Homo sapiens: one gene and its partners. The protein of the gene in region 7 purifies or fractionates together with the protein of the main gene of each other region. This does not show direct contact. Each region holds a gene or a part of one and is shown on either strand. Other genes may lie near its edges.

What was found.
Region 1: the proteins of PPA2 (region 7) and PCCB purify together in Homo sapiens (affinity purification with mass spectrometry, with the first as the bait; one large-scale study listed by BioGRID). This does not show direct contact.
Region 2: the proteins of PPA2 (region 7) and CAT fractionate together in Homo sapiens (co-fractionation; one large-scale study listed by BioGRID). This does not show direct contact.
Region 3: the proteins of PPA2 (region 7) and GLS purify together in Homo sapiens (affinity purification with mass spectrometry, with the first as the bait; one large-scale study listed by BioGRID). This does not show direct contact.
Region 4: the proteins of PPA2 (region 7) and SCPEP1 fractionate together in Homo sapiens (co-fractionation; one large-scale study listed by BioGRID). This does not show direct contact.
Region 5: the proteins of PPA2 (region 7) and NENF fractionate together in Homo sapiens (co-fractionation; one large-scale study listed by BioGRID). This does not show direct contact.
Region 6: the proteins of PPA2 (region 7) and TANGO2 fractionate together in Homo sapiens (co-fractionation; one large-scale study listed by BioGRID). This does not show direct contact.

The regions. Positions count from the first base shown.
Region 1 is NC_000003.12:136,326,820-136,330,990, forward strand, and holds the end of PCCB (propionyl-CoA carboxylase beta chain, mitochondrial isoform 1 precursor), read left to right. Parts: coding exon 1-91; intron 92-335; coding exon 336-436; intron 437-814; coding exon 815-913; intron 914-1,938; coding exon 1,939-2,038; intron 2,039-3,085; coding exon 3,086-3,207; 3' UTR 3,208-3,350; downstream 3,351-4,171. UniProt on the Homo sapiens protein: This is one of the 2 subunits of the biotin-dependent propionyl-CoA carboxylase (PCC), a mitochondrial enzyme involved in the catabolism of odd chain fatty acids, branched-chain amino acids isoleucine, threonine, methionine, and valine and other metabolites.
Region 2 is NC_000011.10:34,469,621-34,472,918, reverse strand, and holds the end of CAT (catalase), read right to left. Parts: intron 1,962-3,298; coding exon 1,878-1,961; intron 1,552-1,877; coding exon 1,486-1,551; 3' UTR 859-1,485; downstream 1-858. UniProt on the Homo sapiens protein: Catalyzes the degradation of hydrogen peroxide (H(2)O(2)) generated by peroxisomal oxidases to water and oxygen, thereby protecting cells from the toxic effects of hydrogen peroxide.
Region 3 is NC_000002.12:190,887,168-190,891,338, forward strand, and holds part of GLS (glutaminase kidney isoform, mitochondrial isoform 1 precursor), read left to right. Parts: intron 1-4,171. UniProt on the Homo sapiens protein: Catalyzes the first reaction in the primary pathway for the renal catabolism of glutamine. Plays a role in maintaining acid-base homeostasis. Regulates the levels of the neurotransmitter glutamate, the main excitatory neurotransmitter in the brain.
Region 4 is NC_000017.11:56,994,760-56,998,930, reverse strand, and holds part of SCPEP1 (retinoid-inducible serine carboxypeptidase precursor), read right to left. Parts: intron 3,951-4,171; coding exon 3,913-3,950; intron 3,425-3,912; coding exon 3,296-3,424; intron 1,970-3,295; coding exon 1,876-1,969; intron 964-1,875; coding exon of another isoform or gene 872-963; exon of another isoform or gene 547-871; coding exon 433-546; intron 1-432. UniProt on the Homo sapiens protein: May be involved in vascular wall and kidney homeostasis.
Region 5 is NC_000001.11:212,435,581-212,439,751, forward strand, and holds part of NENF (neudesin precursor), read left to right. Parts: intron 1-4,171. UniProt on the Homo sapiens protein: Acts as a neurotrophic factor in postnatal mature neurons enhancing neuronal survival. Promotes cell proliferation and neurogenesis in undifferentiated neural progenitor cells at the embryonic stage and inhibits differentiation of astrocytes.
Region 6 is NC_000022.11:20,058,683-20,062,853, forward strand, and holds part of TANGO2 (transport and Golgi organization protein 2 homolog), read left to right. Parts: intron 1-2,491; coding exon of another isoform or gene 2,492-2,553; exon of another isoform or gene 2,554-2,807; intron 2,808-2,813; coding exon of another isoform or gene 2,814-2,847; coding exon 2,848-3,001; coding exon of another isoform or gene 3,002-3,005; exon of another isoform or gene 3,006-3,024; intron 3,025-3,812; coding exon of another isoform or gene 3,813-3,892; intron 3,893-4,171. UniProt on the Homo sapiens protein: May be involved in lipid homeostasis.
Region 7 is NC_000004.12:105,467,233-105,471,403, forward strand, and holds part of PPA2 (inorganic pyrophosphatase 2, mitochondrial isoform 1 precursor), read right to left. Parts: intron 1-4,171.

The DNA of each region.
Region 1 (4,171 bases), on a different chromosome or scaffold from region 7:
TCATCTGTGAAAGGGGCTCGTTTTGTCAGATTCTGTGATGCATTCAATATTCCACTCATCACTTTTGTTGATGTCCCTGGCTTTCTACCTGGTAAGTTTTTGACAGAGTGGGGGCTAGGAGAGTTGCCTTTCCCAGTAAGGTGCCCACTTTATTTGGAGATCTTCTTGCAGAACTCCCCGAGGACTTGTGACTTCTCCATGTATTCTGGGTGTCCAGAAGATAGGGCTGTGTAAGGAATGGCCCTCTCCAGAGGTGGGAAAGACCTCACAGCTGAGAGTGGCAGGATAACCATGTGAGGACTTGTGGGTATCTAGTAACTCTTCCTCATGTCTAGGCACAGCACAGGAATACGGGGGCATCATCCGGCATGGTGCCAAGCTTCTCTACGCATTTGCTGAGGCAACTGTACCCAAAGTCACAGTCATCACCAGGAAGGTGAGGACCTCATGTTGGAGGCCATGACCCTGCTCACTTTCCTACAGCATAGCCGTGGTGGGAGGTCTGGCAGAGTTTTACCAGGGCTGGAAGGAGTACACCTTGCTCATCCTTAAAAAGATCTCTTGAGGATGTTGTTCCCAGCCCCGCAGAAATGTCTGTGCTTTTTTAACACAGGGGAACTGAAGGCAGTAGTGGGAAAAAGCCAGAAAAGATAATGAGCATTAACTTTGAAAGGTCTTACAGACCGTGGGCCTTCAGGAGCCCAGTAGGGCTATTCTTGTTCTTTGTCCCAATTTTACCTGGTTTCCTGGGGTCTTTCAGGGACATGATCTGGCTGTCTCAGGCTCTAACACTCAGCATTTGGATCTGTTTTAGGCCTATGGAGGTGCCTATGATGTCATGAGCTCTAAGCACCTTTGTGGTGATACCAACTATGCCTGGCCCACCGCAGAGATTGCAGTCATGGGAGCAAAGGTGAGGGCCTCTTGCTTTTCCCTTTCTGGGTCCAAGGACTCGACTCTACCAGCGAGAGCTCAAGGCATAGCTGGGAAATGTTGGAGAGAGGCCAGGGCCCCTAGGTTGAGCCAGGACTGAGGTGAATGGGACCTAGACCTTGGTAAGTCTCCCTCTTGGGGCTCCAGAGATAGCTCTGCCTCCTGTCCTATACCCTTTCTTCAGGCCCACGCTGGTGTCTTCATGCCAAGGTGGGTGCGGCAGGTGAAAGGAAAGTGAGAGGGGTCCAGAGTGGTTTTGAGATTGTAAGTAAAGGGGGCAAAGGGTTGAGTCAACTGAAGTCACCTTCAGAAGTATTGGACATTCTCCCAGCTCCACCTCAGCTTCCAGGGAGGGCCCCAGAGCTACTCTTTTAAGCTCATAAGAAGCTAAACTGTAGGTCCGACCCTAGTGACGTTGGACAAGGTACTTCCTATTGCTTGACCTATTCCTCACTCCTCCCTGCTTTGAAGTAGCTATTGTGGTCGAATCAGATAACTTCCAGGTCCCCTAGAGTTGACTTATAGGTGCTCTGACTTGAAGGCCAATCCTTCTAATTTCCAGTTCAGTCTGGTCGCCTCTGGCCACCGAATTGTATACTCAGGTCTTAGGGTACCGAAAAAGGGAAATAGCACATTTAATTCCCCTTGATACAAGACCATGGATTTAATAATGGAAAACAGGGCTAACATCTTTGGCTCAAAGAAATATGATGAGTGCAAATGGAGATGGTAGAATGGGCTCTGGGGAGAGAAGCTACTGGCTTTTGCCTGACTGCCCCTTATTGGGGCCACAGGGAAGCATCACATCCCATCATGCAGCCCCTTGTGTCATGATGGTCAGCCCCAGGCAGTTCCTCCCTCTATGCTATGGCCTTTAGAGATGGCACTTCCCCTCAGTACACTGATTTACCAAGAAATTTGCACCCACACACAGTGATAATGAGTTGAAGGAGATCTGTCCAGGTTGGGACGACCAAAGATGTTCATGAACTCCTCTAATCACAGGGCGCTGTGGAGATCATCTTCAAAGGGCATGAGAATGTGGAAGCTGCTCAGGCAGAGTACATCGAGAAGTTTGCCAACCCTTTCCCTGCAGCAGTGCGAGGTAGGGGACTGTGGTGAAGAGGGCAGCTTTGTTTGTTTGGTCAACTTGCTCATTCTTTCTCTACAGAAATTGTCACATAACTGCCTTTTTGCCTTTGCAGTCTAATCTGTTGACTAGTGAGGGTTGGGACTGTCCCTGGGCAGTCATCACTTGGACTAAGGACTGTGGGACAGGCTGCTTTGGTAACCACAATTAAAACAACATTGCCAAAGTGTATTAAATTTCTAGGTGTTGTTCCAGTTGTCTAGTGCTGTGCAGAAATTCACCCTATAACTCAACAGCTTAAACTAACCACCGTTTCCCCCACTGCTTATGGTTCTGTGGGGTCCACAATTTGGTCTGGGCCCAGCTGAGTGGTTCTTGTGCTGGTCTTGCCTGGGATCACCCACACAGGTATAGTCATTCTGTGGCTTGACCGGGGCTTGACAGTCCAAAATGGCGTCACTTACTTGGTAGTTGCTGTTAGCTAGACTCACTCCCCACGTGGCCTCTCACCCTTGAGGAGGCTAGTCCAGGCTTCCTTACATGGTGTCCCGAGAGTAGCAAGGGGGCAAAGGGAAACTGAGGCCTAGATTTGGAAGTTGCACAGTGTCATTTTTGCCACATTTTATAGGCCAAGAAAACTCAACAAGGTTAAGCGAAGGAATACAAATCCACCTCTTGAAGAGAGAAGTGGTAAAGTCACATTGCAGGACTTGTGTACAAGGATGAATTGTTATAGCCATTTTTGAAAACCTAGATGTATTTTCTTTATTTCCTATTGAATTCATTGTGGCAGGATGGAGGCATTGGAGCAAGCAGGGTATAGGGAGGGTGTCCGATTTTCCTTTTCTTGCCAAGTGCTCCTAGGCCAGAAGTTGGGGAGCTGTCAGAACAGGCCAGCTCCTGGGATACAAGGGGGAATTCACAGGGCCTACCATCTCTGTATCAGGTTGGGCACTGCTTATACTGCTGGCCCCAGGGATGGTGCCCAGGCTGAGCAGAAGGTTGAGGGGTGGCATCATCTCGGGATGCAGATGATCCACTCCCTTTTCTGTGCTTCACCAGGGTTTGTGGATGACATCATCCAACCTTCTTCCACACGTGCCCGAATCTGCTGTGACCTGGATGTCTTGGCCAGCAAGAAGGTACAACGTCCTTGGAGAAAACATGCAAATATTCCATTGTAAACAAATCAAAGGAAAAGAAACCAAGAACTGAATTACTGTCTGCCCATTCACATCCCATTCCTGCCTTTTGCAATCATGAAACCTGGGAATCCAAATAGTTGGATAACTTAGAATAACTAAGTTTATTAAATTCTAGAAAGATCTCTTTTGTGCCTTACTGTAAAATTATTTACTTTTTTAAACATTTTAAGTTGTATTTTTTGAGCATAAATTCGATTTTTTTAGGTGGAAATCTGAAAAATCAATACAACTAGAAAGAAAAATAGTACACAGTGTTATCATCTAGAGCTGATTTTTATTTCACACCTCTGGGTATTGTTCTTTTTCCTCTCGAGTTAGTTTTTTTATCCATAGGTGAGATATATAGTAAGTTTTTAAGGCAAAGTATTTCTTAGGCTTAAGTTTCCTTATTTTAAAAATAGGGTAATATGCCCTATCTATCTCCTAATTCCTCCATGAATTGAGGATTAAATGTGATGTTTGCAATTGTGGTATATGTGTTTAGCAGTACAGATGCTCAATAAGGCATAGCACCCTATGTTGACTCAGGTTATTTCCAGAAATGTGTTCTTAAAATTAAAAAAAAACTTTTTAATTGCGAAAATTTTCAAGCCGATAGAAATGTTGCAAGAAGTGTATTGTATCCACTTCACCTAGATTCTCCAGTTGGTAACATTTTCTCCATTTGCTTTATTTCTTCCATACGTAGATATATCTAATAATATATAATATGCATATAAGATATATCTAATTATATTATTAATATAATTAATGTATAATTATATCTAACATGATTATATATATTTATATATTTATATTATGTATTTATACATTATATAATTATATAATTGTATAACATATACAATATAATTATTTAATTGACCCCTTTGAAAGTCAGTTGCAGATTCGTGACCCTGTGTTCCTAGAAACTTGTATCTCCTAGGAACAAGGTCCTTTGTCTTAC
Region 2 (3,298 bases), on a different chromosome or scaffold from region 7:
AGAGGAGTAAAGAAATTTGAGCTAAAAGACCAAGAATGAGTTTGTATCTGTCTGCTAGTGGTCTGTTTCCTGAAGCCCGTAACTCAGGAACTCCTGAAAGTATAAACTGGTTTGGTTTTTTGTTTTTAGTTGTTATTGTTGTTGTTTTCAGACAAGGTCTCACTCTGTTGCCCAGACTGGAGTGCAGTGGTGCAATCACGACTCACTGCAGCCTCAACCTCCTGGGCTCAAGAGATCCTCCCGCCTCAGCCTCCCTAGTAACTGGGACTACAGGCATGCGTTACCATACTCGGCTAATTTTTGTATTTTTTGTACAGACAGGGCTTCGCCATGTTGCCCCGGCTGGTCTCAAACTCCTGAGTTCAAGTGATCCTCCTGCCTTGGCTTCCCAAAGTGCTGGGTTTACAGGCATATGAGCCACCACACCCGGCACAAACTGGTTTTGAATATGAACGGAATAAAGATTTTCAAGGAAAACAAATTTTCATTTAGTATTCAGAACTCATCTTTAAAGTCTTCCATGTGATTTTCAACCATGATAGGCAAATATGGGCTTTAAAAAGAAGGAAGAGGAAAGTGACCAGTGGTTCTGAGCCCTTGTTTTAAAAAGTCAATCACAGGTAAGTGAGCAAATGGACAAGAGATTTAAGTAATTTTCAAAGTTGGGGCATTTGCTATTTTATCAGTGTCTCAGAAGGCTGTCCAAAGGCTATAGATTTAAACAAATAACATGGAGTCCTCGAGATACTGGCATTTCCATTTTTAAGGGTAAACATCTGAAAATGATGATGTTCAAATTAAGAGTCTGGTAGCAGTTTACAGTTACATATGGAGTCGAAAGAAAGAAAATACCATCTCTGTTCTTACGTACAGATTATTTATTGTAAAAATGTAAGCAATTACAAATTGATCTGTTGTGAAATCAGTGCTGAATTAACATTAATGTAACTCCAGTGAAAAAAATGAATTTGATCAATTATTATCAGGAATAAACATTAAGCCATGACGGTGCTCAAGTTATCTTCTGATGACACTGCTGTATTAAATGTACTTTTCCTATGAGAACCTTAGAAAAATAAAAATTTCTGAGTAGATCATCTTTATCTTTTCTTTTTATATATTTATAGCCATATTTTAATATAATAGGCCATGAGGTGATATGTAAACATACATAATTTCAACAAATTTTGTCAAATAAAATCATATTTCTAGCTAGAAACTTGCCTTCTAATCATTTTAAATGAATAATCCAATCATCCGTCAAAACAAATTTTTTTTTTAAATGACTGTTAAATCCTAACCTTCATTTTCCCCTGGGGAAATAGCATTAAAATTGTTACACAATCTGCTATAGAAAGTGGGATTCTCTATTTTGAAGCCACTAGCTTGCATTTGCACATCTAGCACAGGAGAATCTTCATCCAGTGATGAGCGGGTTACACGGATGAACGCTAAGCTTCGCTGCACAGGTGCAGGGCCCCGGCCTCACAGATTTGCCTTCTCCCTTGCCGCCAAGTGAGATCCGGACTGCACAAAGGTGTGAATCGCATTCTGTTTTAAAAGAACAAGATGAGCAGGTTAATCACCTCATGGGCAGCAACGTGATATTTACTCAGTTTTAATATGTATGCAAATGAAAATAATAATTCAGAATTCATTCACTTTAACTGTCTTAAATTGCCCAGCGCTAAAATGAAGAGTATGTGTTTTGCCAGTGAATTCTTTATCTCTCAAATGAATTTCTGCACAGCTGCCTAAGAAATCTAACAGTGGCAGGTAATGGCCCCTGCAGACTGTAATGCTAAGTGGTAACTAAGTCATGCCTACTCCAACCCAGCACACACAGCCTCTGCATGGCCAGGCTGCTCCCAGCTTACCTTAGGCTTCTCAGCATTGTACTTGTCCAGAAGAGCCTGGATGTGGCTCCCGTAGTCAGGGTGGACCTCAGTGAAGTTCTTGACCTAAGGCCAAAGGAAAATAAATGCAAGCATTACTCTAACTCCCTACTATATCACTCCCCAGGGACTGTGGTTTCCCAGTGTTTATTCCATAGGGGAGGAAAGACGTTTCAGCAGGAGGCAGTACTACAGGTGTTTAACAATGCCAGCCTCAGAGTTAAGATGCAGGTCCAGTGAACACTCTGACATATACTGGCTGAGCAACCTCGGATAGGTCACTTAACTTACTGAGCTTATGTCCCTCTGCCGAAATGCGCAAGAAAATGACACCTAATCAGTATAATTTTAAAAATACTATTTGGTCTTTGTCCCCCATTCCTGACACAGATCTAAAACCCTTCGAATGTACTGTCTTTTATATACTACTAAGATGATTCATGGGGGCCTACATAGATTCCTGATGGAGGCTCACACCAGGAAGAACAAGCACGCGATCAGAAGGTTAGAACTTCTAGCCCCACCCCCAAACCTCCAGGGATGGGAGAGGGGCTGGAGATTGTATTCAATCACCCATAGCCAATAATTTCATCAATCATGCCTATGTCATAAAACCTCCAGAAAAACCCACAACTGGCAAGGTCAGGGAGTGTCTGGATTAGTGCACACATCCAGGAGCTAGAAGGGTGGTCCACTCAGGGAGGCACAGAAGCTCCGAGGCCTTCCCCCATGCCCCTCTTCCATTTGTCTATTCCTGAGTTGTATTCTTTATAATAAATTGGTAATCATAAGTAAATCATTTTCCTGAGTTCTATGAGTCTTTCCAGCAAATTATCAAACCTGAGGAAAGGGTTTGATTTGCAGTCAGAATCTGCAGAAGTGTGCATAGCCAGGGTACCTCATTTGTTATCTAAAGTGGGAAATGACCCCTAAATCTTTGGGTTCTGACTCTAGCTCCAGGAGCTACTGTTAGAATTGAATTGAGTTATAGGACACACAGTTACTGTCAAAGAATTACAGAATTGCTTATTGTCGGGGAAAAAAACCCATACAACCTAGGCCAGGCGCAGTGGCTCACGCCCGAAATCCCAGCACTTTGGGAGGCCAAGATGGGTGGATCACCTGAGGTCAGTAGTTCAAGACCAGCCTGGTTAACATGGCAAAACCCCATCTCTACTAAAAACACAAAAATTAGTCGGGCATGGTGGGGCATGCCTGTAGTCCAAGCTACTGGGGAGGCTGAGGCAGGAAAATCTCTTGAACCCAGGAGGCAGAGGTTGCAGTGAGCCGAGATCATGCCACTGCAGTCCAGCCTGGGTGACAGAACAAGACTCCATCTTAAAAAAAAAAAACCCACACAACCTACCTCACAGGATGCTGTGAGAAAAATGCTGAGAAGTGAG
Region 3 (4,171 bases), on a different chromosome or scaffold from region 7:
ATAAAAATAGTTATTAATTACTGATATCTCTCAGTGAGGTACATAGCTTTCACATAGAGATACTGTTAGTACAGTTTTACCCTGAAATCTACTCAGGTGCAAAATTGCTTTGGTTATGAAACACATTACTTGTGAGTCATCACTGCACTTAGTGATTTTCTGACCCCCTACAACGTAGTAGAAGCAAAATGTTAATGTACCTTGACTTCCATTTGGGAGTGTCCTCTGCTTGATATGTTAAATTCATTATAAAGAAATGTTTATAGTAAAAGCATTACTTTCGAAACATAGAACTGTAGATGTTGCATAATGAATAAAACTGATAGCTTTCAGGATTAAGAAATATATTTTTGCCTATTTATTTCTGGTACAGGCTTCTAAAAAAGATTTTTAAAATTGTCTTCTTGATGAGGATATTTTGAGTGACATAGACCCGTCCTTCAATTCTTGATGGTAAACTTTCTGAAGAGCAATTTTTAAGCTCTATGAGGAACTTACAAAGTATTCATACCTTTTTAGGAATCTAAGTTCACAAAATAAACTGAAGTGTTAGAAAGATTTATTTCCTATTATTTTTGGTACAGTGTTATGCATACTAGAGAAAAATGGAGAAAAACGCATGTTCAACATTAGTGGGATAGTTAAGTAAATTGTGGTACATTCATATGAGGGTCTCTTATTTAGTCATTTAAAATGTTTGCAGGTACTTTTTAGGATATAAGGTAATGTTATAACGGCCAAAAGTTAGAATACAGAATTTTCTATGCAGTATGATCTCAAGCTATTTAAAAAGCTCAGAAAAAGTAATAGAAGGAAATAAGCCAAAATGACATTAGCAGTTGTGGTTTATGAGAACGAGCATTGTTTTTCCTGCCTCCTTTTGTTACTTTTAAGATTTCCCCCCCATTATAAGTGGGAAACGTCTAAAACAGTAAAAAACATTCCATAGTTTTGAAAATCAAAGGAACCACATCTGTTAAGTTTTGAACTTGTAAATCTCTACTGTCTACTCTTCTAATATCCTGATTCTGGTTGTATAAGAACAGTAAGCACCATTACATTGAAAGAAAAGTATGAAAATAGGTTATGTATGAATTTGCACAGCTCCTGTTTATCAGCATTGTCTAATCATATTCACTGGTACCCTTAAACATCAAACTTTAAAAATTTAAAACTATGCTTGATATATCTCCCTAGTAAATGTTACATATTTCTCTGCCATATTAAAACATTGTAATCAATAGAGTTTAACATTTCTTGTTCAACTTATGTGTATTTTAAGGATGCATTATTATACTGCACTGTAATACAGTGATGCTGTAAGACAAGTGCTGGCACACTTTCCCTGAAAGGCCAAATAGTAAATATTTTCAGCTTTTGGGGTTCTCTAGTCACTACTACAACTTCTCAGTTCAGTGGTGGTAGCAAAATAGCTGCAAACAATAGGTAAATAGATGTGGCAGTCTTCCAATAAAACTTTATTTACAAAAAGAGGAGGTCCCTGCTGTAGTTTGCGTAGCCCTACACTAAAATATATTTATTGGTAAGTTCTCTCATGCCTTGATTGGTTCTGCTTTAACCAGTACTCTTAAGGGTGGGTTTGTTCTTTTGTGGATTTTTGTATCTTGTATCAGTTGACTGTTCTTCATGTCTCTACTTTAGCTATCCTCCTTCACTCTTACCTTCTGTATCCAGTTCTGCTTAGCTTTTTCAAAAAATTGTGGTTAAATATACATAACATAAAAATTACCACTTTAACCATTTTTAAGTTCCCTAGTTCAGTGGCATTAAATACTTCTGTTAGTTTTAGAACCCAGATGAATATGCTAATGTGTAAAATAAAAGTATGTAAGTTGTGAGTGAATAAAGTTTATGATCTCACTTTAGTGTAGTGATTTGGAGGACATCTATTTTTAGCAACTCAAAAACTGAGAATTAAGCTTGGAAGTAACTTTAAAGAACATTTAATTCCAGCTCATTTTACGTATTATATAAGCTGCCCGCAGATATTAAATGACCTAAACAAGTTCAGACAGTATTAGGACTTGTTTTGATTTTTTATTTTTCATCTATTAGCAGCAAACTAATTCAATTTATAGAGTTAATTTTTTTAGATTGAGGATTATAAGAGATCTTACAAACCCTTCTCCCCAGCTGCTGCTTTCTTCTCTTCTGTTACATACTCCCTATAGGTTGTTGTTATTCATCTCTACCTGAATACTGCCTTCACAAGGGAGTTCACTCCCTTAGAAGGCAGCCCATTCCGTTTTCATAGCTGTTTCATTTTTCCTTATGTGTGGCTGAAGTTTTTCATTAACTTCTACCTATATATGTTAGTTATTCTGAACAAGTTGTCTATAGTGGTATCAGAGTGATTGCAGTGACAGAATTCATATAGTATCTGTATTATTCCATCTAGACTGATATATTAAAGGATACTTGGCTGAAGAAATGAGTTATTGGAAAAACTAACAGAGTTGGATGTTATAGACTTGATCTCCCCAGATCCTAGTCTTCCCACCCGAGACAGCCAGACTGCCTTTTGGGTCAAACTTCTGAAGTTGTGCAAACGTATGGACAAATTACCATGAGCTGACAGGGGCAGCCTGACCATTTCCTCACATAAAGTGGCTTTTGTGCTTTTTACTTTGGTGTGCTATTAAATGAATTTGTGCTATAAAGTCCAGTCAAAACAGCAGCACTAATTGAATATAATCTCATCTTTGCTTTGACAGGATGCAGTTTTATCAAGGCAGACCAGTTTAGTTCTCTTATGTGCATTTTGGTTAGAAATTTATTATTGTTTAAGAATTACAGATATTATTCCTAAAATAGAGTGCTAACCACTGAGAGCATGAGGTGGCAGAGCAGGAAGAGTCTGGAACTGGGAACAAAGGATGAGCTTTGTAGGACTAATTCTGGTCCAGCCACTTAAGATTTATGTGACATTGGACATTCTGCTTGACTTGGATACTCTTAAAACAAAATTTTTTTTAAATTTAAAATTTAAATTAACATTTTCTTTCTTTTTTTAGAAATGGAATCTTGCTGTGTCACCCAGGCTGGAGTACATTGGTGCCATTATAGCTCACTGCAGCCTTGAACTCCTGGGCTCAAGCAGTCCTCTTGCCTCAGTCTCCCAAGTAGCTGGGACTGTAGGTGCATGCCACCACACTCTTCTAGGACTCTCTTTTATCTGTACACTGGGGACAATTAACCCACCTTAATTTACCTCATAGGGTTTTAATATGATAGAAAGTGAGAGTCCTTTTTTAGCAGTAAAGCCTTAAAAGATGTAAGTTTTTATTTTTAAATTCAACCAATGATTAGCCTTGGGGCAAAATCACTTGGATGATAACTAGAATTTGTCAATTTGTTAGACTTAACATTCATTCTCATATGCTATTTTACTATATGGTCAGCCACCATCAATTCAACTTTCTATCTAACAGGTTTATTAATCTGCCAGTTTGCTGGTGTTGATAGACGGTTGTTATCAGTCAGCTCACTATAAATTCAAAATGATACACTGATTTTAAAACAACCCTGAATTATCATCTGAAGGATCATTATTCTTAAATGAAGGCATAAAGACTAGCAAATCCTTTTGTATTGTGTTATTATTAGGCCTCATTTTTTTTAATCCCACTTGAAAAGACAGTTTTTCATTGTCTCATAGGTTTACCATACTATACTATGTGTTTTAAGAGTTATGCGAAAAAAAAAATAAGAAAGACTTGACCCCAGCCTTGAAGCTTTATAGTTTGGGGAGGTTAGGTAATATGAAATGTTATTTAACAAAATAAGACCATACAGTTGGTTTCAATTATTTTCCTCTGTTCATTTTGTAGTTCTTAGTAAGGATTTTTTTTTTATTTTCTTCCTTTCATTTGATAGTTTTTTATTTATAAGATTTTTGAACTGATGAAGATGAGTTTGCCTTGTTGCTCCTAATTACAGATTAGAAACTTTCTTGATTTCCCCTACCGATTAAGGCAAAATTAAATACTTCATCTGTACTTGCTAATAAAATACTTTTTGAAAAACACTTCTACCATAGTATTTGTCTCATGGCTTTAGTCATATTTCTCCTAGACCACAACCTTACTTTAGGGATCTTTATTGCTATTGCTTGGCATATAATAAGTGGTACAAGAAAAGGACAAAACTT
Region 4 (4,171 bases), on a different chromosome or scaffold from region 7:
CCAGGCTGGAGAGCAGTGGCATAATCATAGCTCACTGTACCCTCAAACTCCTGGGTTCAAGCAATCCTCCCACCTCAGCCTCCCAAGTAGTTAGAACTATATGCCACATGCCACCATGCCCAGCTAATTTTTCTATTTTTTTAAAGAGATGGGGCTTTACTATGTTGCTTAATTGTGGCCTCAAGCAATCCTCTCAACTCAGTCTCCCACAGTGGTGGGATTATAGGCGTGAGCCACTGCATCCAGCCCTGACAAGTCATTTACTGTCTCTGTATCTATTTGCTCACCTACAAAACGTGGATAGTAATATTGTTTACCTATAACCTATCATCACCAACAACAAAACCCACCCTACAAATTCAGGTCTCTGAATTTGCACCTCTTTTCTCCCCATAACTGTACAAACGGCACTTAATTAGGTCATATAAGTACCTCCCCAGGATTGATCCTCAGGAATAATTTTGAGCTTCTTTCTGATGGGGCCATTCATGAGCTGGCTTAAGGCATCTCGTTGTAGGTGTCTCACGTGGCGCTGACAAAGACAAACTAAAACCAAACTGGTAGATAGTGAGTCAAAGGGCTGGAAGTAAGGCCAAGAGGACATCTTTTTTTTTTTTTTTTGAGACAGAATCTCTCTCTGTCTCCAGGCTGGAGTGCAGTGGCACGATCTCGGCTCACTGAAACCTCCGCCTCCTGGGTTCAAGCGATTTTCCTGCCTCAGCCTCCCGAGTAGCTGGAACTACAGGCACCCGCCACCATGCCCAGCTCATTTTTGTATTTTTAGTAGAGACAGGGTTTCACCATGTTGGCCAGGATGGTCTCGATCTCTTGTCCTCATGATCCACCCGCCTCAGCCTCCCAAGTGGTGGGATTACAGGTGTGAGCCACCACGCCTGGCCATGAGGACATCTTTACCAAGCTGCTGGGGATGCTGCACAGCAAGAGGGAGGGTTTCAGATTCAGCTGGAAAAGGAAAAGCGTCACCTTGATTCACCCCCAGCGGGAGGAAGGAAGTCAGAAACACATTGAAAGTGGAGAGGCTTTATTATTAGGTTGGTGCACAAGTAACTGCGGTTTTTGCCATTAAAAGTAATGGCAGAATTTCTCAAATTCAATGGCACTCTGGCCTGGGCAACAGAGTGAAACCTTATCTCTTAAAAAAAAAAAGGGAAAAAATAGATTTGTCAAAATTGGTTCAAAATAAGGGGTTGGTAGGGAACTGGGTGGGAAGGGAAATAATGCTTCATTAGTTGTGAGTTAATAATTCTTGAAACCTGTCAAAAACCACAGTTACTTTTGCACCAACCTAATAGTATTGATTATACATTCTATAGACTTGGGGGCCATTGGGATTCTCCAGAACGGCCAAAGAGAATCATCTAGAAAGTGGAACCTAGGGTATCCTGCAGCCTTTATATGCTTCTTGGTTGGCTGAAAGATGACTAAATTCAGTCTTGAACTGATGTTGTAATTTGGTGTATGGAAGCTGGTTTCTAAACTTCAAAAACATCATGCTATGTGACAGAAGCCAGTGCAAAAGACTAACTATTGTGCGATTGTATTTATATAAAATGTTCAGAAAAGGAAAATCTAGAGAGACAGAAGGCAGATGAGTGGTTGCCTGTGGCTGGGAGTGGGAATGAGAACTGTCTGCAAGCAGACACGTGGGATCTCCTTGGGGTGACAGAAATGCTCCATAACTGGATTGTAGTGATGACTGCACAACTCTGGGAATATACTGAAAACCACTTACAGTGAGTTAATTTTATGGTATGCAAATTATATGTTAATAAAGTTTTTTTTTTTTTTAATAAACAGGTTTCTTTTTGCATGGAGGCTGAGGCAGGGACTTTAATAACTTCAAGGTTCACTCACCTAGGTGGCTCTGTGTGAATTCTAGACTCGACTCCATTGTAGACGTGGGAGTGCTTTTAGTTAAGATGTTATAGAAGTTCACCCCATCTGTGTTCTGAAATATAAAAGTTTATTTGGCTGTTTGTTTCATTTTCCTATCATCAAAGCTGCCAAACAGAAGGACACATGGCTCTTTATCTTATCCAAGGACAGGTTTAATTTTGTATATCTGCTTGGATCAGAAAGAAATAGAGCTTTGGCTGGGCCTGGTGGCTCATGTCTGTAATCCCAGCACTTCGGGAGGCTGAGGTGGGTGGATCACTTGAGCCCAGGAGTTCGAGACCGGCCTGGTCAACATGGTGAAACCCCTCTCTACTGAAAACACAAAAATCAGCCGGGCGTGGTGGTGCTCACCTGTAGTCCCAACTACTCTGGAGGCTGAGGCATGAGAATCACTTGAACCCAGGAGGCAGAGGTTGCAGTGAGCCGAGATCGGGCCACTGCACTACAGTGTGGGTGACAGAGCCAGACTTAGTCTCAAAAAAAAATAAAAAAGAAAGAAAGGAAAAAGAGGCCAGGCGCGGTGGCTCACGCCTATAATCCCAGCACTTTGGGAGGCTGAGGTGGGTGGATCACCTAAGGTCAGGAGTTCAAGACCAGCCTGGGCAACACGGTGAAACCCCTTCTCTACTAAAAATACAAAAATTAGCTGGGTGCGGTGGTGCGTGCCAATTATCTCAGCTACTCGGGAGGCTGAGGCAGGGGAATCACTTGAGCCCAGGAGGCAGAGGTTGCAGTGAGCCAAGACTGTGCCATTGCACTCCAGCCTGGGCGAGTGTCTCAAAAATAAATAAATAAATAAATAAATAGAGGAAAAAAGAAAAAGTAAAAAATAAAATAAAGAAAGAAATGCAGCTCTGAAGTCTCAGAAACCAGCTGTGTCAGCCCACTCTCCCTGGAGTGGTGAGCATCTCATATGAGCAGTGATCAGGCCCTGCAGGGAAAAAACCAAGGGCCTAGGTGTTAATTTACAGGGAGAACAGAGCTGCAGAGGGGCCTACACTCCCAAGTCCTTAGCCTACGCATTCTTTCCTTCTGGCTCTCTGGAGTCAGAATGTTGCTTGGCAAGGGTCCCAATAAGGGAATGTGTTTTCTCCACACACTCACCTCTGCAAGACAGTCTTTTTTTTTTTTTTTTTTAATAGAATCCATACATTTAGTGAAGGACAAGCAAGTCTTGCAGGCCTGGGTGGCTTTCTGACTCTGTAAGGAGCCACTACATCACTGCTTAGACCCAAGAGATTTATTATCCAGCATGCAATCATTTGCAGATATGTGGGGAGCCTCAGTGTAGACTCCAAGTTTGACAACACCAACCATGGGCCCTGTACCCACCAGAAAAAGCCAAGCAGGCTCGCCTCTGAGTGTTTCCCCTTTTTACCTGTTCAATGATCATTTCTGCTTTCCCCCACAGCTCTGTGGCCTCTCTGTAGAGCCCCTTATTTACGGCATTCAGTACTTGCTCTGCAACCTTAGACACCTCTGCCAGACCTTTGTCTTCGAGAAGAGACTGGAATGCAAACCAAGAGCAAAAAGACCCACTTTACTTGGGAACGTCAATCTGGTATTGCTGCAGTTAGGGAGGGGTAGGAGAAAGAGGGGAAGGAAGGAGAACGGGAGCTCACATATCAAAGTGTATTGTTACAAGCCACATGTTTATTGGATGAAACACAGCAAATTGTTAACTGAACCTAAGTAGGTATTCACCGTGATCTTTCAACATTTCTGCATATTTGAAAATTTTTGTAATAAAAATTTAGGGCATTGGAAAAATGTGTTTCTTATATCTGGAAAAAAGTGATGTGTGCTGATTTTCTTTCAATTTGTCCCTGAGGCGAGCTCTTGCTTTGGGTCTCCAACTCTATGTGGATGACTAGTCCCTAAAAAGCAGTGTCAACCACATAGGCAAACTCATCCAGCATCTCTTTTCCTGGGGTCACAGCCAGAAGAGATCTGCTGGGCTGTTTGCCCAGAGGGTGCAGATGTGTATCTACTTACCATGCTGTACAGGTAAGGTCCCCAGGAGAGCACCGAATCTAAAGGAAATCACATATGTACAAATCAAGTATGTCATACCTCTGTCTTTCCAAAGACAAACCTACTGTCTTCTCTCTAAAGAAGAAAGAGACAGAAGCAAGAAACCCGGTGGCTTTGGATTGGAAGGCTCCTCAATTCACCTGTACCCATGCAGGAGGCGGGCTGATGTCTCAGTGTCTGGAAGGTGGGATAAGGGTGTGGGGGCCTTTCTGTTGACTCT
Region 5 (4,171 bases), on a different chromosome or scaffold from region 7:
TCTATTGCTAAGCCTGGAGTGCAGTGGCAGGAACACAGCTCACTACAGCCTCCTCCTGGGCTCAAGCAGTCCTCCTACCTCAGCCTTCCCAGTTACTGGCATTACAGGTGTGCACCACCACACCTGGCTATTTTTTAAATTTTCTGTAGAGATGGGGTCTTCCTGTGTTGCCCAGGCTGGTGTCAAACTCCTGGGCTCAAGCAACTCTTCCACCTCAGTTTCCCAAAGTGCTGGGAATACACGTGTGAGCCTCCATGCCTGGCTCAAAACTTAATTACTAATAGCCTACTGTTGACCACAAGACCCAAGAACATAGTCGATTACCACGTATTTTGTAAATGTATTATATACTGAATTCTTACAGTAATGTAAGCTAGACAAAAGAAAGTGTTACTAAGAAAATCATAAAGAAGAGAAAATATATTTACTATTAAGTGAAAGTGGATCATTATAAAGGTCTGCATCCTGAGAAGGAAGAGGAGTGGTTGGTGTTGCTATCTCAGGGGTGGCAGAGGTGGAAGAAAACCCACATATAAGTGGACCCATGCAGTTCAAACCTGTGTTGTTCAAGGGTCAACTATATATAGATAGATAAATGGTTTATCATAAGGATTGGTTTACACGATAGCGGGGGCTGGCTGGGCAAATTGGAAATACATAGAGCAGGCTATCAGAAGGGGCAGGCTGGAAGCCCTCAGGCAGGAGCAGATGCTGTAGCCCATGGGTCTTTTTTTTTTTTTTTTTTTTTGAGACGGAGTCTTGCTCTGTTTCCCAGGCTGGAGTGCAGTGGTGTGATCTCAGCTCACTGCAACCTCCGCCTCCCATGTTCAAGCAGTTCTCTACCTCAGCCTCCCGAGTAGCTGGGATTACAGGCGCCCACCACCATGCCCAGCTACTTTTGGTATTTTTAGTAGAGACAGGGTTTCACCATCTTGGCCAGGCTAGTCTTGGACTCCTGACCTCGTGATCCACCCGTCTCAGCCTTCCAAAGTACTGGGATTACAGGCGTAAGCCACTGTACCCAGCCTTGTTAAGGTCTTTCGATTATGAGATTAGGCCCACCCAGATTATCTGGGATTATTTCCTTATATAAAGCCAATTGATTGTAGATGCACAGCAATATCTAGGTGAGTATTTGATTGAATAACTGGGTACAGTAACCTGTGCAAATTGACACATAAAATAAATCATCACAATGGTTATAATAAGAGTTCCTACTTGGCTGAGTGTGGTGGCTCACACCTGTAATCCCAGCACTCACTTTGGGAGGTCGAGGCAGGAGGATTGCTTGAAGCCAGGAGTTTGAGACCAGCCTAGGCAACATAACAAGACCTCACCTCTACCAAAAAAAAAAAAAAAAAAAGAGTTCCTACTCTAAGCAGGTGTTTTGTGAATGCCTGCATTAAATGAGATGGTGGTGTGCACAGGCTTAGCGTAGGCCTGGAATAGGGCTTAGCACCGTAAGTCTTAATAAATGTTAGCTACTATTATTTTTTATTACCTTATTAAAGATACAAGCAAGAGGCATTATAACAGGTCCACGGTCCTTTCATGCACTACAGAAATCTAATAAACTCTGAAACCTAGACATTTTTGTTTTTCACAAGTCATTTGACAGAAAAACCCAGCTTGATCTGAAATCACTTGATGACAGAACCTTGTTGGAGCTGCTATGAGTCTACGTTAGTCTTTATCCCATTTACTGTGAATGTTCATGTTTCACTGGAGAAATACTAACATACTTGATTATGGGTGTTGCCTTGGACCTCCCTAGAGGTATTGCATAATATATGGTATGTTCCCCATAACACCTTTCTAAAATCTGACATATTTTCATATTGAAAACATGTCTGACCCCCAAGAGTTTCTGCTGTGGGATTGTGGACCTGTGTAACAAGGCTTTCTGAAACATCTAGCAATGAGTGACTTGCTTCTACTAGATATAAAAAAACCTTCTTTCTTGGATGAGAGCCAAGGCAGACCCGCCTCTATCAGTCACACATCCCACTGTGTGGTTCAAGGTGAGAGAGCTCAGACACCCACACAGGGATTTGCGTAGTTTCTCCAGTGGCAGCTTCAGATGGGAAATCCGTGAAGCATGGGTGTCCTGGCTGTCAGTGTCTTTCACAGAGCCACACTGTGTTCTGGATCTACTGCACCAAGAGCCAGTTCTTTCCTTTTAGGCATTGTAGGGCCTCAGAGTGATCCAAGGCTCCCTAAATCATTCACATATGGGAATAGAAAAATCTTTGGTATACATTAGTCCTCTTCGAATGCTTGCTGAAAATCTGGGCGGGGTGTGGTGGCTCACACCTGTAGTCCCAGCAGTTTGGGAGGCCGAGCTGGAAAGATCGCTTAAGCCCAGGAGTTTGAGACCAGCCTGGGCAACGTAGTGAGACCTTGTCTCTATTTTAAAAAAGAAAAAAAATCTGGACAGCATCTCCTTGGTGCTTCTTTAGAACTCCATTCTCCCAGTAATTCTAGTAAGGGTTGTACAGAAGAGGTGATTTTGAGGACCTCTTATGTAGATAACAGGTTATAAAGTGAGTGTGTTGAACAAAATTGAAAATAGAGGAAAAAAAGGTAGTGTGTTCCAGAGTGCCTTTCTTTGGCGCTTGTTTTCTTCAACTCCTGTCAAAATTGCCCTGATAGGTAGAGATATTGCTTGCACATGTTCACCGGTAGCTTTTGCCTTGTCACACACCTGTTATGATAGCAGGGTTTCACTGTCTACAGATTGCAGGCCAGAGATTGGTATTCAAGTTTTCAATAAGGAAGAATTGCCCTAGGAAGGGCAAAGGCTTAGAATCAGACAGGTATGAGTCTGAATCCTGACTTTTTATTTACCAGCAGAGAAACCATTGACAGGTTATGTAAACTCTAAGCCTCAGTTTCTTCACCTACAAAATGGGTATAGTAATAACTGCCTTACAAGATTATTTTATTTTAGTTTAGTTTTTGAGACAAAGTCTCACTCTGTCACCCAGGCTGGAGTGCAGTGGCTGATTTTGTTTTGTTTTGCGTGTGTGTGTCTGTATTTTTTTTTTTTTTTTTTTGGAGACAGAGTCTTGCTCTGTCATCAAAGCTGGAGTGCAGTAGTGTGATCTTGGCTCACTGCAACCTCCGCCTCCCGGGTTCAAGCAATTCTGCCTCAGCCTCCCCAGTAGCTGGGATTACAGGCACCTGCCACCACACCCGGCTAATTTTTGTATTTTTAGTAGAGACAGGTTTTCACCATGTTGGCCAGGCTGGTCTCAAACTCCTGACCTCAAGTCATCTGCCCACCTCAGCCTCCCAAAGTGCTGGGAGCCACCATGCCTGGCTGTTTCTGTGTCACTTCTATTCCTGTGTCTGCATTTATACTCCCAAGCCTTCCACCCACCCTCCACCTTCTCAGTTGTCATTTCCCAGGCCTGAGAGTCTGTGCCTGGGGGTTGTGCTATCCATGGATGTTCATCTACACTGGGTCAGAACTCACCACCACAGCACGCTCTGTTTACTGATAAGACCATTCCTCTGCATGGCATATGAGGTATCTATGTCACTCTGAGGCCTCAAAAATGCTAAACATTCTTTTCTTCCCCTATAATATGACTTCCTCTTCGCACTTACACCTTCAAGTAAGTAGTTTAAGGAGGAGATAAAAATTTTACTGTTAAAAAAAGGAGATTGCTGGGTGCAGTGGCTCACGCCTGTAATCCCAGCACTTTGGGAGGCCGAGGCGGGTAGATCACCTCACGTTGGGAGTTCAAGACCAGCCTGACCAACATGGAGAAACCCCATCTCTACTAAAAATACAAAAAAAAAAAAAATTAGCCAAGCATGGTGGCACACGTCTGTAATCCCAGCTACTCGGGACACTGAGGCAGGAGAAATGCTTGAACCCGGGAGGCGGAGGTTGCGATGAGCCAAGATCATGACATTGCACTCCAGCCTGGGCAACAAGAGTGAAACTCCTTCTCATAAAAAAAAAAGATTGTTTGCCGGGCGTGTTGCCTCATGCCTATAATCCCAACACATTGAGAGGTCAAGGCAGGCAGATTACCTGAGGTCAGGAGTTCTAGACCAGCCTGGCCAACATGGTGAAACCTGTCTCTACTAAATATACAAAAAAAAAAAAAAAAAAAAAATTGGCCAGGCGTGGTGACACACGTCTGTAATCCCAGCTACC
Region 6 (4,171 bases), on a different chromosome or scaffold from region 7:
ATGATAGAAAGGAGAGTTTTATTTGCCATATCAGTTTGCAGACCCGGAAGAGAGAGTCTCTAGCATGGACTGAGGTGCTCTCTTTGAAGAGGGGAAGGGCAGTTTGAGTTTTATGCCTCCCAAGGTCCATATCACACAATAGAGTCATACATATTCAGCAGGTTTGGGGAAAAGCCATACATATTTATGAGGGGACCCGAGAACATATGCAATAGATAAACATACATGTAACATACATCCCATGTTCACTTTGGGGCAGGGTTTTAGCATTAAAATGAGGTAGAATCTGGATCTTTCCATCAGAAGGTGAGCTCTAGGACACAGTTGGAGTGCAGCCTCTATGAACTGCTGAAACTGGCTTATGGTCTGTAGTTGCTTATCAGAAAAGAGTGTTTGAAGGCTGGTTCTCTGTCCAGTCAGGGTTGTGGTGGTCTGGGCTGTCAAGAGTTAGGAGGGTCTGATAACGTGTGTGATCTCTACTGTTGTGAGGGAGTTTATCAAGACTGTGGTTTTTCTTGTAGCTGTAGGAATTTAGGGAGTTGCTGAGACAGCTGCCCTGAACCCTCGAGCCAGTTGGTACTTTTTGTTTCTTCCCTTTATCCATTAATGGACACTTGAGTTTTTTCCACCTTTTGGCTGTTGGAAACAGTGCTGCTCACAGTGTGACCTCACAGCATTTGTGTGGTCATATGTTTTTATGGCTCTCATGTGAATACGTAGGAATGGAGTTGTTAAGTCGTATGGTAACCCTGTTTAACCTTTTGAGGAACATCCAAACTGTTTGCCAAAGCAGCCGCAGCATTATACATTCCCACCAGCAGTGTATGCGGGTTGCAGCTTCTCTGAATCCTCACCAAAACTTGCTATGTTCTGTGTTTTTGATGATAGCCACGATAGTGGGTGTGAAGTTGTGTGGACTCGTGGTTTGGTTTGCGTTTCTCTGATGGCTATGATGTTGAGCAGCTATTCTCATGCTCGTTGGCCATTTGTATGTCTTCTTTGGAGAAATGGTTATTCAGACTGGGTTGTCTTTTTGAGTTATAGGAGTGACTTATACATTCATTCTAGCTACAAGTCTCTTATTTAAAGCACAAAGCTTAAAATTTTTAAGTCCTATGTCTCTCTCTTTTTTTTTCTTTTGTTGCTCATGCTTTTGGTTTCTTATCTAAGAAACCATTGCCTAATCTAAGGTCATGAAGCTTTCCCCAATACTTTCTTCTTAGAGTTTTATAGCTTTTGCTCTTTCACTTAGGTCTTTGGTTTGACTTAAGTTAACTATTTTTTTTTTTTTGAGACAGGGTCTGGCTCTGTCACCCAGGCTGGAGTGCAGTGGTGCAGTCATGGCCCACTGCACTGTCAACCTCCTGGGCTTAAGAGATCCTCCCAGCCGGGCGCGGTGGCTCACGCCTGTAATCCCAGCACTTTGGGAGGCCAAGGCGGGTGGATCACAAGGTCAGGAGATCGAGACCATCCTGGCTAAACCGGTGAAACCCCGTCTCTACTAAAAATACAAAAAATTATCCAGGCGTGGTGGCGGGTGCCTGTAGTCCCAGCTACGTGGGAGGCTGAGACAGGAGAATGGCGTGAACCCGGGAGGTGGAGCTTGCAGTGAGCCGAGATTGCGCCACCGCACTCCAGCCTGGGCGACAGAGTAAGACTCCGTCTCAAAAAAAAAAAAAAAAAAAAGAGATCCTCCCTCCCAAGTAGCTGGGACTGCAGATGTGTGCCACCATGTTCAGCTAACTTTTATGTTTTGTAGAGATAAGGCCTCACTATTTTGCTATTTTGCCGAGGCTGGTCTTGAACTCCTGGGCTCCAGTGATCCTCCTGCCCCAGCCTCCCGATGTGCTGGGATTATAGGAGTGAGCCACCTCTCTTGACCTGAGTTAACTTTTGTGTATGGTGTCAGGTAGAGTCCAACTCCCTTCTTTGCCCATGACTATGCAGTTCAATGGTCTTCCATGTTGTTCATGATGGAAAAAGCACTGTGACACCTGGGGCTGGCGGCTTGGCTCTGGGGGCCCCAGCAGAGCCAGGCTGTCTCCCTGGGAAATGCCTCGGCCAAGATATTCTCCTGGAAGTCTGACAGGGAGAGGGTGGTGTCTTGGTCTCCCTGGTGCATCATTTGGGGTGCTTGGCTCCCATCAAGCCCACCCCTGCTGCCCTGGCCTCTAGAGAAGAGCCTCTGAGGTGAGGTGCTTCTCCACCTCAAGTCCCTGCCCTTCACTTTCTGTGACATGAGAAACCCTTTTCCTGTTGGCCATGCCTTCTGCCAACACTCTGGGAGCTTGTTCAGAGTCTGTGCAGAGCCCCCCGGCTCTCCTAACCTGGGGCCTGGCTGGTACGCAGAGGTGGGCCATGCTCTGCTGAGGCCCAGCCTACACCTGTGCCCACTGTGTGGCGCTGTTGGGGGTTCCCCAAACAGGGACATGATTGTGGTGGGTGCCTCCTGGCCTCTGGTGGCTAATTCTCCCACTCTTGAACTTCTCAGGTGGCCCCCCAACCTGGCGTGAGGTGAAGAGGTTCCCTCTTGGCTGTCCCCTTTGCCTGTGAGATCTCAGGTTGCTCATTTCTTATTCATCCATCCATCGAGGCTGCTGGGCATCTGTGCCTTGTGGTCTCCTGTGGGTGCCCGCTTCCGCCTACTGCTGAGTTCTCCTCTCCTTGCCATGCCATCAGGTCAGGAATGAGCATGGGGAAGGAGCTGGAGCATGGAGCGGCTTGGCCTCAGTCTGGCCTGATTTCATGGTCCCCAGCTGTACCCCGTGTTAGGTGGGTGGCAGGTGGCAATTTGCCCTGACATGGCACAGCAGGGCCTCTGCATGGCCCGCTGATTGCTCCTCACAGGCACCTACGGGCTGAGCAACGCGCTGCTGGAGACTCCCTGGAGGAAGCTGTGCTTTGGGAAGCAGCTCTTCCTGGAGGCTGTGGAACGGAGCCAGGCGCTGCCCAAGGATGTGCTCATCGCCAGCCTCCTGGATGTGCTCAACAATGAAGAGGCGTGAGTGGGCGGGTCCTGCTGGGGTGAGCCCCAGTGTCCCGCCACCAGGGCAGAGGGAAAGGCAGGCCCTGCTGCCCCGGGAGGCCCATGGAAGTGGCCAGGCTGGGTCCCCAGCTGCAGGGAAGCTGATGGATATCCTGTCCTCCCTGCCTGTCCCCTTGAGCCAGCTGAGGTTTCCAACACCAGGGACTTTTGATGACAGAAGATGGGCCCAGGCCCAGGCCCAGGCCCAGGGGAGGCTCAGTGCACCCAGAGGCTTGATGCAGCCACGTGGGGCCCAGAGCAGATGGATGCTCCCCTCTGCATGCCGAGAGCTTGTGGGAAGTTCCAGAAGATTCTAGACACTCAGCAAACCCAGGCGGAAGAGACACATCATGGAAATGAGTGGCTAGGGTCAGCACGCTCAGGGTTGATGGGCTTCCCGCAAGCGGTCTGTCCCCAGCGACCCTGGGCTGAGTGCTGGGCAGGGACTTGCAGTTCCGGGAACTGCCTGGGTGTAGGAGCTCCCACCCACTTCCTTGCCCGTAGGCCTCAAGGCCCCTCAGGGGCCAGGCACTGGGGTCTTCGTTGCCCCAGCCGGGGGTCCTGGTGCTTGCCATGCCAGCCTTTCTCCCACTGGGCGAGATGCCCCACCCATCCCTCGCTCCCCACCCAGGTCAGACCACTGCCCTGCCCAGGTGATCCAGCGTCCACTCCCACCCTGTCCAGCTTGCCCCCTTCAGAGAAGCACCCATGGACCATCTCCCACTCCTCCCCCTGGGGCCCCTTTCTGCCCCCTGCCTACCCTCCTTCTCCTCTGGGCCTCTGATAGGCGGCCTCGTCCTTCAGCCTCAGCATCGCTGCCTCACTGGAAGAGCCCCACCTGGGCATGCCCAGCAGCCCCTCCCAGCTGTAAGTCCACACAGCCCCCATCAATGTGCCATCTGGGGCAGGCCGAGGACCGGCCCTGGCTGCCCTCACTGATGGCTGGAGCCCCGATGCTAGCTACAATGGCTGGCTTGAGTGGACTTCTGTCACAGAGGCAAATGCCCACAGGGCACCTCTTGGGGCAGGCAGGGAGCTTGTATGTGCCATCTGGGGCCAAAGCTCCACGATTGAGTCATAAGTTAAGGGTAGATGGAGATTTTCCGCCTTGAGCAGAAACGTGGAGGAAACACGCCTGGTGTGTGA
Region 7 (4,171 bases):
GATCTCTCTGGTGGGTAACAGTTCAGCACAGATCTGAATGAAGTGAGGGAAGAGATCAAGTAGACCTCTAGGGAGGAGCACTGAAGGCATAAAAAGCACAGGTGTGCAGAGGAAAGAACATACATGGCATGTCTGAGAAACAGCAAGGAGGCCAGGATGGCAGGAGGACACTGATCAAAAGGAAAAGTGGCAAGCAATGAATTCAGAGAGGAGCCCAGTATTAGATCCAGTAGGACCTTACATGCTATGGTACATATTTCAAAAAATTTTTTGAGTGAAATGGAAAGCCACTGGCATTTTCAGCAGAGCTTGTACATTATCTGACTTACATTTTAAAAGGATGAAGGTGATTGCTGTATGGAAAGTAGACTATACAGGGCTAAGGGTGGAAGCAGGGTGAAGAATCAGGAGGTTACAACTGATCAAGGGAAAGATGATGGTGAAACAGAAAGTGAGAAGGGTGGAAGTGGACAGAAGGAATTGTCTTTTGGTACATTTCAAAAAAATATGCTAATGAGTTAGCTGTGGGATAAGAGTAAAAGGTGACAAGAAGAATGCCCAGGTTATGGGTTAGCAACTAAAGAGAGAAACAAGTTCGGTGAGGGTGGGGAGTCAGGAGTTCTGTTTTGTGCTGTTAATCTTGAGTTGTATCTTAAACATTTAGGTAGAAATACAGAGTAGAAAGCTGGATGTGTAAATTCTGAGTTCAAGAAGAGATGCGGCTAATGTTATAAATTGGGGAATCATAAACAGCGTCTAACACTATGGGACCTGATGGGATCACCCAGAGCAACAGCAATGGTCAGCAAACTCTGGCTTTATGGGCCAAATCTGTCACATGGCCTGGTTTTATTTTTGTAAATATAGTTTTATTGGAACATAACCACAGTCATACTTTTACTGTCCATGGCTGTATGTTACAATGGCAGAGCTGAGTAGTTGTGACAGAGACTGAATGGTTCGCAAAACCTAAAGTATTCCTTATCCGGCCCTTTACAGAAAACTTTGCCAACACCTGCCCTAGAGAGGCAGTATAGATAGAGAAGTGGGCTGAGGATTGAGCCCTGGGCATTTCAAAGGCTAGAGTTCGGAAATATGACAAAGGTTCAGCAAGGGAGAATGTGAAGGAGAAGCATCAAAACTAAGACAAAGTGCATCCCAGAGGAAAGCAGTTTCCTCTGGGAAAGACAAAAAAAGTGTTTCAAAGAGAAAGTGATGAACTGTAAAAAGTACTGCTGATAGGTCATATGAGGACTTCAAACTGACCATTAAGGTCGCAGCATGGAGGTGACAGGTAGCCCTGACAAAAAGCAGTTGGTAGAACAGTAGCGATGAAAGCCTAAGTTAGGTGATCCTTGACTATTTGGTTTATATTAAAAAGACTAGAAAAAATCACTGGGAACTCTGTGTTCCCACAGAGATGAATGGGTAGGAGGCTGGCTGTTATGCTGGGGTCCCCAAATACCAGCATGCAGAGTACTGCTGGGGCACCAACACCATCAGGGGTCCTACTTCCCTCTCAGCTCTTCATTCACTTTTACAGTTGGAACTAACACAACCCTCATGCATTAGACCTGCATGGGAAACATTTGTGTACTATTTGTAGTACAACTTAAACTAATCCCCCTGTGTTAAGTTCTACATCCATCTAACTCTCTATCCTATCTTATATCAACACACCCACAACCTCTCTGAGGTTCTGCAGCAGCTCGGCTTTTCCCTAAACTACGTCCCCTGAACACATATACTTAAGCTGGGACTTCTTCCACACTGCTTCATTAATAACCATATCTCCATTGGTTTTTTAATCTTTTATACATATTTCAAAATCTCAAGCTTTGGTGGCTCCTTATCTGTTGTTTTAGGGTTACCCTTTCTTATCCTCACTTACTATCACTTTAATAGGATATTTATTATAGGGGAAAAGAGATAAATGATTGTAGTCACTGTGTCATTTTTGCCATGGTATTTCACTGTCGTCAAAAATCAGATTGTGTCCTTAGGCATTAATTGCTAACCTCTATCAGGCCCATCAATCTACACGATATTGCCAAACAGTGGTCAAAATTCTCCCTTCAACTGGTCTGAAATCAGATTTTATTCTAGCATTTTCTAAGTTATCTATGTGATTCTTTCTCTCACAAGAGCAAGTTGTATCAGGATGAAAGTTTATTACTTACACTAGAGCAAGTGAGAAAATTGAATGGAATGTGAAAACCATACCTAATTTTATGTATCTATACCAGACAGCTAAATGTATGCCATATACCAACATATGATTACACACGACTACAAAACCACTTATAGAGATTCTTACTGGAAGCTTCAGCAATGACTAAAGCTAACTTTGTTTTATTTTCTGATAAAAAGATTAAGAAATGTAAAGGAGCCTAAAAACTTCAATAAAAATGCTTCCTCTGTTCCATATAGATCACACAATTCCTATTTCACAGCACTGATATAGAAAACGTTTAAGGTTTTAAGGACTGAAAAATCAAATAAAATACTTTTTCTATATTCACACAAAACCCATTGTGTTCCATTATATCAGTTGAAGTTCTATGATATAGGCCAACTTTAAAAAGTTACAGAAACTCATATTTAAGACTCAAACAAATTTTGTGGATTATTCACGGGAAGTTCTCTTTTAAGTCCAAAGATACAGCACTTTCAATGGCAGATTCCTCCTACTACCCAAATGACATAAAGAAAACCTACAGTAATTTCAACACAAGCACATGCTTACTATAAGTGACAAAGCAAATTAATTTTAAAGAACTGCTTGGTTCATTCCCAGACTAAATAAAAGCAACTTGAATTATCCACAGCACTATTTCTCTAAGTAAACCAGTTGCCTATCCCATAATAACAAAATTCCTAATTATGGAAAGCATAGCTTTTCCCTATCCTATGAGAACAGTATGAAATCTAAAATAAAATTTCAAGTTATTAACGAAACAAAACAAACAAAAACACGCAAGATATCAAAGGAATACTGGCATGCAGCATTAGGTCTTTGGCTCAATATAAGTGAGTCTAACTTCATTATGATTTCACAGTTAATTTAAAAGACTGCAAGTACCCATTAAAACTTTAAGACCTAGGAAGCCGGGCACAGTGGTGCATGCCTGTAGTCCCAGCTACCCAGGAGACAGAGGTGAGAGGATCGCTTGAGCTGGGGAAGTCAAGGCTGCTGTGAGTCGTGATTGCACACTGTGCTCCAGCTTGGGCAAAAGTATGAGACCCCATCTCTAAACAAACAAACAAACCAAAAAAATAAAAATAAAATGAATAAACAACAACAACAAAAAACCTTCTGAAACCTATAAATTAACAGGAACACTTCAAAATAATCAATCACATCACCTTATTTTCTCCCTTCACAGAATCTAATAATAAGGATTTTAGTCTAATGTCTTAAAGTCAAAAGGGAAAAATAAATAACATTTATTAAATACCTATCACGTGTGAGACACTGATAATTACACACATAGTCTCATTTAACTGCCACAGCAATTCTATAAAATTACTAGTGCTATCCCCATTTTATTTACGGAGAAACTGAGCTACCGGATGTCATCTGAAGGTAAGGGATGCCTCTGGTTAATTCAGTCGAGTGACTTGTCCAAGACGGTAAAGTCAGGACTACAACTTAAGTGGTTTGACTATTAGTTTAGAACTGTTACAGCACAGTTGCTTCTGGAAGTTGCAGAAATCATAACCCTGATGTCACTAAGATGTTAACAAATGTTCTGAGAAATAAGTACTCTGTGGTTCAGTTTTTGGAGAAGTTACATCCGAATTTTCCAGAACTTAAATAGGCAAATTCTTCTTCAAAAAAGTAATAAAATGGGAAGTGTTCTAATTTATTAAACCATGAAACCCTCTGTTTTAACGAAAACCTAATAATATACCATGGGATGCTTGTGTTCAACTAAGCAGTCTGGAAAATGATCATCTGGTCCAATCTCCTCATTCCATGGTTTTAAAAAATGAGATGCAGGGAGGTGAAGTGACAGCAAGATACTAACAGGGTCAGGGCTGGCACCAAGGAGGCCTGATGATTCCCATCAGGATACCCTTTCCCCTAATCATCCTGTCTCACTCTTTCTACAAAGTTTAACACCAATTTTTTTTTAAGTATTACATCAATCATTTATTCTGATTTTAC